Regions from separate parts of the Homo sapiens genome. Here region 2 is linked to region 1. Evidence: fine-mapped expression QTL. A gene starts in region 1. The other region holds a variant in brackets. All regions are shown on one strand. Distances are from middle to middle.

The links. PIP is the estimated chance that this variant, and not a neighbour inherited with it, causes the effect. A credible set is the group of variants that fine-mapping cannot tell apart.
Region 2: its variant is the best candidate, but not a certain one, in a credible set for the expression of PER3 in whole blood (INTERVAL, PIP 0.61).

What each region holds. Positions count from the first base shown.
Region 1 is chr1:7,782,372-7,787,747 of GRCh38, forward strand. PER3 (period circadian regulator 3) reads left to right here and starts at 1,920. Exons shown (of 22, transcript NM_001377275.1): 1 at 1,920-2,005; 2 at 2,283-2,634; 3 at 3,070-3,215; 4 at 4,350-4,465. The coding sequence starts at 2,507. RefSeq lists a silencer at 1,386-1,995.
Region 2 is chr1:7,830,281-7,835,656 of GRCh38, forward strand. All of the region lies in intron 19 of PER3 (period circadian regulator 3), which reads left to right. Among named protein-coding and RNA genes, the nearest start is that of UTS2, 20 kb to the right of the region's middle. The variant AT/A (reference allele first, on the strand shown) is at 2,438.

The sequences.
Region 1 (5,376 bases):
TGAAATCCGCCTTCCCAGAGGCCTGCCCTGCTGATCTGACTAAGCAGGCTCTGGCCTCCCCACTCCACCTTTCTCCCAGTTACTCTTCCTTCCAGTAGTTTGTTTTCTACACATCGCTTTAGGCTTTATGAACTTGTTTATGGGGTTGTTTGTATGGCTTTCTCAATAAAACGTCAACTCCCTGGGTGGCAGGGACTTTGGGCCACTGTTCTATCCGCTGGGATTCCAAGCGTCCCTACCCAGATCTGCACGCAATAAATGCTTGCTGAACGAATGCAGTTTGACAAAACCCAGCTTCGGAGGAGAGCAAGCCAACCTAGAGTATCGCTTGGAAGATATAAGGTGGTTTATTCAATACCTAACATGAACACTCACCTCACTTTTCCCCTCTTCCTTTACATACAATTTCATCCATCCAACAAATACTGAATATTTTTTCTGTACCAGGCAGCGAAGAGGGGCGGCACTCTGCACTGTACCTTTCATTTCTAACATGTTGAGATACTAAACTGAGCTTTCAGACATTTTTTTTAAAGGGCTCTACAACTTCTTTTCTGAAACAGAGTGTCTTTTACGTTTGTCTTCCTCCAGTTGCCAAATGAATCTAATTTTAGGAAGTGCAGGGAAGTGTTTTAAGTTCCACCGTCAAAATTCTGTTTCTGGGCCGGTGCAGTGGCTCACGCCAGTAATCCCAACATTTTGGGAGACCGAGGCCAGCAGATCACTGGGGCTTAGGAGTTTGAGAACAGCCTGGCTAACACAGACCATCTTTACCAAAAACACAAAAATTAGCCAGGTGTGGTGGCTGCACCTGTAGTTCCAGCTACTCGGGAGGCTGAAGCAGGAAACTGGCTTGAGCCCAGAAGACGGAGGTTGCAGTGAGCCAAAATCGCGCCACTGCACTCCATCCAGCCTGGACAACAGAGCAAAACCCTGTCTCAAAAAATAAAAAATCTGTTTCTAAAAATCGGGTGGGCTTTTTACCAGGGCTGCTTTATGGCCCGGTTCCTCCAAGTCCACCCCACTCACCGAAAGAGTTAGCGGAGGATGGGGGCGGTTGGGGTGGGCTCGGTAGGTCACGGGCGGTGAAAACCGTGGGAACCCAGAAAGACGGCCAAAGCACGATGAGGACCGCTGCCGGCAGCCCGCCCCACCCTGGGCTCCTCCCCACACCCGCTCGGGCAGCCGGGAGCCACCTACAAACTCCAGGACTCGACCCCAGAGCGCTGGCCTGAGCCGCCCCTGCTCGCCCCCAGTCCCCGCCTCTCCCTCCCTCTAATGCCCCCGCCCTCGACACCGTCGCCCCCCCGCCCCTGCCTCTCGCTCCCCACGTCTCTCGGCACCCCCGCTCCCATCCGCCCCCCCGTCCCCGCCTCTCGCCCCCATCCGTCCCCATTTCCAGCCTCCCCCTGACCCCGACTCAAGCCCCCCGACTCCGCCTCTCGCCCCTCTCTGCCCCCGCCTCTCACTCCCCTCTCCTTCCCCGCCCGCCTCTCACGTGGAGGTTGGGCCGGACCCGCCCCGCCCCACAGAGCCCGGGTCCCGCCCCCACGTGGCTGGCAGCTTCCTGGCCCTATCATTTCTGCGCTGGCTTCAGCGGCTCCGCCCCGGCGCCGTGCCAGGGGGCCGGACACTCCAGTCGCGCGGCACAGGCCTGAGGCCGCTGAGGGCCACCCCGTCCCCTGCCCGCCCGCCGGCCTGCTGGGATTGGCCGAGCGCCGGCCTCCGCCCGAGCCCGCGCGTTATGTAACGCGCCCCGGGGGCCCCGCCCCCTCGCCCTGGCTTATATAACCCGGGCGCACCGGCTCGCGCCCCGCCCCAGGGCCAATGGAGGCCTGCGGAGTCGGCCCCGACGACCAATCGCACGGCCCGGGGGCGGGACCGGTCACGCGGCGGCAGGGGGCGCGGCGCCGGCTGCTGACCGGCACGCGGCGAGCCTCGAGACTGCGCGAGGGCGGCCCCGGGGGCGAGCGGCTGTGCGCGGGGCCAAGGGCGGGGGCAGCAGGTGAGTGCGCGGCCGGGCGGGAGTTCTGGGCGGCCGGGCGGGAGTTCTGGGCACTCGCGCGCGGCAGAGGAGCCCCGCGAGCCCTGCCCTCGGTACTGGGGGCCCCCGGAGCGTGGCGCTTCCGAGCCACCCGCCTCCCCGGGCCCCATCCCTCGGCGCGCGGGAAAGTTGGGGCAGGGGTGAGGACCGCGCGGTCGGGGCGCCCCAGCCAGCCGGGCCGCTGGCGTCGGACTGTCTGTTCCATTTGTCCCTTGTCACCCTTGTCTCCTCCCCCTAGGCCGGAGTCCTGAAAGTCGAGCGAGCTCCGGGTTTTGAAAATGTTGGAGGGAAAAGCTCCTCGGAGATGAGCGTGACCCCCTGGCTCGTGGTGGCCGCCTGTTCTCACTAACGCCATGGCGGGGACCGGAGTGAGAAACCGGTGTCTGTCACTGACTGCAAAGTGAGCGAGAAGCAGGCTGCGGGCCGTCCCAGCACGACGTGGAGCCCCGCGGAGACCTCGAGATGCCCCGCGGGGAAGCTCCTGGCCCCGGGAGACGGGGGGCTAAGGACGAGGCCCTGGGCGAAGAATCGGGGGAGCGGTGGAGCCCCGAGTTCCATCTGCAGAGGAAATTGGCGGACAGCAGCCACAGGTGACGCGCTGGCTTCAGGCCGAGGGCCCCATGCGTTCGTTGTCCTTCCCTGGAGCAGGGAAAGGGGGACCTAAATCTTTTTATTCTTTTGTTTTCAAGCCCAGGGGAAAGTGTAAAGGGGAGACTCGGGCAATGTAGGATGAAGTGATCCGTGACACTGAAGAAAATTACCGAAGAGTATCAGGAGGGAAAAGTGGTTACAAAAGTTAGCTGAGTTGGGGCTCAAGTGGATTAAGGGAAAGTAAGTGGAGAATGTTTGTCATTCACCAGTTGCTTTGCCTCGAGTTCCCCACCTAGAGGAAGAGGGGTCACCACCCTGTGGACTGATGCCGGTAGAGCACTTAGAAACTTACCTGGCTTGCAGTTTGTGTTCCCTAAGCCGCAAGATGCTGTTGTCTTCAGAGGATGAAGTTGTAATTTTTTTTTATCTTCCAGTGAACAGCAAGATCGAAACAGAGTTTCTGAAGAACTTATCATGGTTGTCCAAGAAATGAAAAAATACTTCCCCTCGGAGAGACGCAATAAACCAAGCACTCTAGATGCCCTCAACTATGCTCTCCGCTGTGTCCACAGCGTTCAAGGTAAACAAGCCGGAGAGAAATTTCATCCTACGAATGCACCAGGACTCATACAAGCAGCCAGAGGAGTGGTCAGTGGGGTCTCAGTCAGACAAATAATTTGAGCTTTTTCTGGTGCTTTGTGGAAGATGAGCAAATCTACACCGATTCCATTCGTGTCTTAATTGTTCACATGTGAAAGACCAGGAAAACTTTATCTGTATAATAGTGTATAATACCTATGCAATGTTTTGCTCATGTGTTGCAAGAGAGTAGAGTTTAGCATAAGCACATTTTGAAGGCTGACCTTTTAAAGAAATATTGTCTTCTATGGAAGTTATGGGAAAAAAATGCATTCCACGAAATAGTTACCTTTACATGCCGTACACATACTTTCAAAATGCAGTAATGAGGCTGGGCGCGGTGCCTCACGCCTGTAATCCCAGCACTTTGGGAGGCCGAGGCGGGCAGATCACGAGGTCAGGAGATCGAGACCATCCTGGCTAATACGGTGAAACCCCGTCTCTACTAAAAATACAAAAAATTAGCCGGGTGTGGTGGCGGGCGCCTGTAGTCCAGCTATTCGGGAGGCTGAGACAGGAGAACGGCGTGAACCCGGGAGGCGGAGCTTGCAGTGAGCCGAGATCACGCCACTGCACTCCCGCCTGGGTGACAGAGCGAGACTCTGTCTCTAAAAAATAATAATGATAAAAATGCAGTAATGATATATCAGGAATTTACCAAACTAAAAATGAACCATTGTAAACACTTTTTCTCTCTGACATTTCCAGGGATTTCATTAAAGCCATATTCTCTTTAGCACAAACCTCAGTGCTTCATATATGATATGTTCCTGAATGACAGAGTACTGTTTCTGCTCCCCCCGCAAAAAAATTGTGTATGCATCTGAAATTTTTAGTTAGTACCTTAAATGTATCTTGCTTCCTGTGATCCAGAACATGCAGAATTCATAAAATCAAATCTTAAGTTTGCACAACTATCAGTATTTTAGGTAAAAGCAGAAAATGATCTGTTTTTGAGAAAAATGCACTGAGGTGTTCTCATCCGAAAAAAATAATCCAGCTTGATAGTGATGAAATGGTTTCCTAAAGATACTGTTGTCACTGGACTACCTGTTTATCTCCCTGTGTTTCTTAGCAAACAGTGAGTTTTTCCAGATTCTCAGTCAGAATGGAGCACCTCAGGCAGATGTGAGCATGTACAGTCTTGAGGAGCTGGCCACTATCGCTTCAGAACACACTTCCAAAAACACAGTAAGAATTCATGCATTTTGCCATATCAACCTGGGTGACTTTTCCTAAGGGCCTGCTCTAGATGTAGGCTTTTAAGAAGGATAACAACGTTTCAGCAACCACAATTTGAGAGAAGCAAAGGAGGAACTGCTAAAGAGGCATGGTGTAGCTTCTCCGCCCTTGCCAGAGAAAACATCTAAAAGCAGAAGCAGCCCGTTCTGTGTGCTGTGCAGCTCAGTGACTTTGGTTATGAGGTGCTTCTAGCTCCTTAGCATTCCCAAGCTCTCTTGAATTAAGAGAAAACAAAAATTACACTGCAGAGTAATTTCCTGCACCTTATTCTAATCTCCGAATTGTTAATTTCTATTTATATCATTCTTAGTTCCAATACCTACTACTTCAAGTTGTAACAACTGGATGTTATAGAACAGGTGAGTTGAGATGCTGTCATTTTTCCTAAAATTTTGGAAGAGACCTTTAGTATATCTTTTTTAATCTCTCTTCTTGTTTGACAGAGTAATCTTCATGTTTGGTTGATACGGTGGAGATTACTTATTTTAAGTAACATAATTGTTACTTAAAGATTTTGTAATAGTGGAACGTGCGCAATCCCTAGTATTATAACAGTGCTTATTTTATGGACTGGTGTGTACATAGTACTGTAGGAGGTGCTATGGAGATTTTTAAAAATAGCTTAAGAAAATATTTGTCTTTTAAGATATTTAAAATAAAGCTAGAGAGGAAAGTATGCCAATGCTAGCAAACACAAACTGCTGATTATAAATAAGTTTCATTTATGTGTAATGGAAAAAATTAGAGCAGTGATGCTTATGTAATGAGGTTTGTCAAGGACAGCTTCTTGAAGAAGGTGAATCTTCAGTGTGTCTTAAAGCATAGAATCTGCGTTGATGACGAGAACACCGTCCACCCAG
Region 2 (5,376 bases), 48 kb after region 1:
CTTTTTCCTTTTTGTCAGGTATATTGGGGTATATTTATACACAATAAAATTCACCAGTTTGAGGGGTACAAACAAGAATTCTGACAGATGTGTACCTTAGTGTAAGCGCTACCACAATCACCATATAGAACATTTCTGTCACCCCAAACAGTTCTGTGACCCTCACCAGTCCATCTCTGCCCTGACCCTTGGTCTCCTGGCAGCCACTGGTTTGCTTTCTGTCACTTTAGTTTTGCTTTTCCTATGATTTATGTATAGAATCAGACAGTATGCTGTCTTTCGTATTCGGATTCTTTCAGTTAGCATGATGCTGTTGAGATGCACGCTCAATAGCATTTATAGCTTAGATCTGTGATCCATTTTGAGTTTTGTGTATGGTATGAGGAAGGGTCAATATACTTTCTTTACATTGGGATATCTAACTGTTCCTGCCGTTTGTTCAAAGGATTAATCTTTCCCCCGTTAAATTGCCGTGATGCCTTTGTTGAAAATAACTTGACCATACACGTGTGGGTGTATTTCTGGACTCTCTTTTCTGTTCCACTGATCTGTATGGCTAGCTTTAGGCCAATACCACACTCTTAAGTAATGTAACTTTCAAGTAAGTCTTGAAGCGTGGTGAAGTAAGTCCTTCAACTTAATTCTTCTTTTCAAAATGATTTTGAATATTCTAGGTCCTTTGTCCATATAAATTATAGACTCCATTTCTCAGTTTCTACAAAAAAGTCTCGTGGTGTTTGGAATGAAATTGTGTTGAATCTATAGATGATCAATACGTGAATAATTATCTTCCTGATGATATTGAGTGTTTTGATCCACAAGTACGATTTTTCTATGTAGGTCTTTAATTCTTCTCAGCAGGGTTTTATAGTTTTCAGCCTACAACCCTTACATATATTTTGCTAAATTTATCTCTAAGGATTTTATAATTGTTGATGCTACTGAAAATGGCATTTTAAATTTTCAATTTGCAATTGTTTGTTGTTAGCATATAGAAATTTAATCAAATTGTGTATTTTTAACTTGTATTTTGCAGTCTTGCTAAACTCATTGATTAGTTTTAGTAGCTCTTTTTAGATTCTGCAGGACTTTTCTACATAGTCTTTATTATCTGCAAATATAATTTTACTTCTTTTTTTCCGTCTGTATGTCTTTATTTATTTGTCTTGCCTCATTGAACTGGCTAGGACCCACAGTGAAGTGTTTAATAGAAATAGGAAAATAGACACTTGCCTGGTTCACAGTCTTAAGGGGAAAGCAGTCAGTGTTTCACCATTAAGTACGATGTTAAGTATAAGTTTTCCTTGAATGCCCTTATCAGATTGAGGAAGTTCACTTCTATTGCTGCTCCACTGAGTTGCCCTTTCTGCGTCTGTTGAGATAATCATGTGGTTTTCCTCCCTTATTCTATTAATATGGTGAATTACATCAGTTTTCTGATAATAAATTAACCTTGCATTTGGTCATGCTCTTTTATCCTTTTTTATATGTTGTTGGATTATCTTCCTAATATTTTGTTACGCATTATTGCATCTCTGTGCAGAATATTGGTCCATTTACTTTCTTTACTTGTAATGTCTTTGTCTGGTTTTGGTATCAGAGTAATTCTGGCCTCAAAAAATGAGCTAGGAACTATTCTTTGCTATTCTGTTTTCTGGAAGAGTTTGTGTTGAACTGATATTATTTTTTCTTTGTAAGTTTGGTAGACTTTACCAGTGAATCTTTCTGGGCCTGGAGTTTTCTTGGTGAGGAGGATTTTAACAACAAATTTAAATATTTTAATATATATGGGTCTAATCAGGTTATCAGTTTCTTAGTGATCTTTGGTAATTTGTATCTTTCAAGAAATGTATCTATTTTATCTAATTTGTTGAATATATTGGCATAAAGTTTTTAATATTCCCTTTTCCTTTTAATGTCTGTAGGTTTTATAGTAATGTACCCCTCTTATTGCTGGTATTAATATTTTTCCTGATCAATCTGACTGTATGTTTATCAATTTTAATAACTTTTCAAAGAACTTTGGATCTCATTGGGGTTTTTTTTCCTATTGTTTTTTGGTTTTTTATTTTATTGATTTATGCTCTTTTTTTTTTTTTTTTTTTTTCCCTGGGACAGAGTCTGGCACTGTCACCTGGGCTGGAGTGCAGTGGCACGATATTGGCTTACTGCAACCTCCACCTCCCAGGATCAAGCGATTCTCCTGCCTTAGCCTCCCGAGTAGCTGGGATTACGGGTGCCCGCCACCACACCCAGTTGATTTTTTGTATTTTTAGTAGAGACGGGGTTTCACCATGTTGGCCAGGCTGGTCTTGAACTCCTGATCTCATGATTCGCCCGCCTTGGCCTTCCAAATTGCTGGGATTACAAGCATCATCCACCGTGTCCAGCCTATGCTCTAATTTTTATTACTTCTTTTCTCTTTACTTTGGATTTT[AT/A]TTTTTTTTTCTTATTTCTTAAGGTAGAAGCTTACTTGTTAGATCTTTGAATTGAGATTTTTCCCCCCCAATATAAACATTTAATGCTATTGAATGCTCTAACCATTGCATCCCTCAAATTTTTTTTTTTTTTTTTTGGAACCAAGGTCTCACTCTGTTGCCCAGGCTGGAGTGCAGTGGCATGATCCCAGCTCACTGCACCCTCAAACTTCTGGGTTCAACAATCCTCTGGCCTCAGCTTCCTGAGTAGCTGGAACTGCAGGCATATGCCAGTGTACCTGGCCAGTCTAAAATATTTCTAATTTCACTTGTATTTTCTTCTTTGATCTTTTGGTTGTTTTAGAAAGGCTTAATTTCCTAATATTTGGAGATTTTTTTTAGATATTTTTATTTTATTTCTAATTTAAATGCAGTCAGAGAACATTCTTTTGTATTTTTTAAATTTACCAAGACATTGTGTAATGATCTGGAATTTGGTCCATCATGATAAATGTTTCATGTGCATTTGAAAAGAATATGCTTTCTGCTGTTGTTGAGTCATGTGTTCTGTAAATGTAAATTAGATCAAGTTGGTTGATAATGTTGATCCAACCTTTTCTAACTGATTTTCTATCTGTTTTATAAGTTATTATGATATGGTTTATATGTCCAGCTATAAATGTGAATTTCTCTATTTTTTCTTATAGTGCAGTGAGTTTTTGCTTCATGTATTTTGAAGCTCTTTTATTAGGTGCATATACACTTGAGATTATTATATCCTCTTGATGAATTGCTCTCTTTATCCTGAAATATGTCTTGCTTTGAAGTCTGCTTTGTCTGATATCAGTGTATCCAGTCCAGCTTTATTTGGTTAGTGTTTACATGGTAAATTTTTTTCATCTTTTTACTTTCAACTTATCTGTGTCTTTATATTTAAAGTAAGTTTCTCGTAACCACCATATAGTTGGGTATTGCTTTTTATTCATGTGACAGTCTCAGCCTTTTAACTGCAATGCTTGCTTAGATTATTTACATTTAATGTGAATATTGATATGGTTAGGTTTAAGTTAAATCTTTCATCTTGCTACTAATTTTCTGTTTGTCTCATCTGCCCTTTCTTTTTTTCCTCCTACCCTCCTCCTTTCGGGTTAATTGTGTATTGGCTTCTAAGCATAACTTTTTTTTTGTTTTTGCTCTAGGATTAACTTTTTATTTATTTTTATTTTATCTTATTTTTTTCTTTGAGACTGAGTCTCACTCTGTCACCCAGGCTGGAGTGCAGTGGTGCCATCTTGGCTCACTGCACCCTCCACCTCCTAGGTTCAAGCAATTCTCCTGCCTCTACCTCCCAAGTAGCTGGTACTACAGGCGTGCACCACCACGCCTAATTTTTTGTATTTTTAGTATAGACGGAGTTTCACCATGTCAGCCAGACTGAACTCAAACTCCTGACCTCAGGCGATCCGCCCGCCTTGGCCTCCCAAAGTGCTGGCATTACAGGTGTGAGCCACCACGCCCAGCCTGCTCTAGGTTGTACAATGCACATCTTTTACTTATCACAGTTTACCTTCAAATATTATGCCTATTGTATCACTTTATATATTAGAACCTTAAGACGGAGTACTTCCATGTCCCCTTTGTCTTTTGTGCTATTTTTGTCATACATTTTAACGTGTAAAAAAACCCACAATAACATTGTTATTATTTTTGCTTTAAACAGTAACAACCTCTTAAAGTTGTTTTGTGTGAGTGTTTTGTTGTTGTTGTTGTTGTTTTGACACAAGGTGTCACTCTGTTACCCAGGCTAGAGTGCACTGATGCAATCATAGCTCACTGTAGCCTCAAACTCCTGGGCTCAAGCAATCCTCCAACCTTAGCCTCCTGAGTAGCTAGGACTACAGGCATGTACCACCACACTCAGCTAATTTTTTATTTTTATGGAGATGGAACCTACCTCACTGTGTTGCCCAGGCTGGTTTCAAACTCCTGGCCTCAAGCAGTCCTCTCATCTTGGCCTCCCAAAGTGCCAGGATTACAGGTGTGAGCCACCACGCCCAACCTAAAGATATTTTTTAATGAGGAAAATTTTTTTATTACTTTTTTATTTACATACTTAGTTTTTTAAAAAAAATTAAACAAATAGTTTTGTTTTGTGTTTTTAATTCCTTCAAAGTCAGTGAGAAGGTTCTAGAAGGGTCAAATGCAAGATAGGAAAGGAATGATCCATAAGGCTTCATATCAGCCATAAAGGGATGGTCCTTGGGATGAACAGTTTCTGTGTTGTGGCAGGAGGAAGGTGAGGAGGGGGTACATATATCATTAATTGTGTATGTTTGGTATCATAAAGGTGATTAATTTGCTTTCTGATGGCTTCTTTTTTCCTTAAAAAATAGGTGAGATTGAGGCAGGAAATAGAGAGGTTGAAAATAGTCATTGCTGGGGGTAGGTTAGTGCATGACCAGAGAACTGTAGCAGGATTCCCAGGTATTTTGATGGTGCATTTGAGGTTGGTGATGATGCGTTTATTGTAGAAACACTGTACCCTGTTATATGTGACTTTCTGTATGTATTTGGCGACTTGGGTTTAGGTAAGAACAAAGTCAATAATTGGCTTTATTGGAGTTGGCATTTTGACAGTTATGAAAAGTCAGAGGGAAAAAGAAGTCTAAGGTATTGCAAGGTGTGTTACTGAATGATGAACTGAGGACTCCACTACAGGAAGACTAAGACGTTATTAACACATTTATAGTTGAAATAATTGAACAAGCCCATGAGAGAGTGAAGCTGAGATGTTGATGATTTTGGAGATGGAGCGGTTATGGGTGATGATAAAGGACAATGTGTGTAGCCTTGAGAGTGATAGCTCATTAGGAATGGAAAAAGAGATCTCAGGAAGACCAAAGAACCAGGAGGCTGTCCACAGGGAGGAGGAAGTTTCCCGGAAATGATGGTTGGGCTG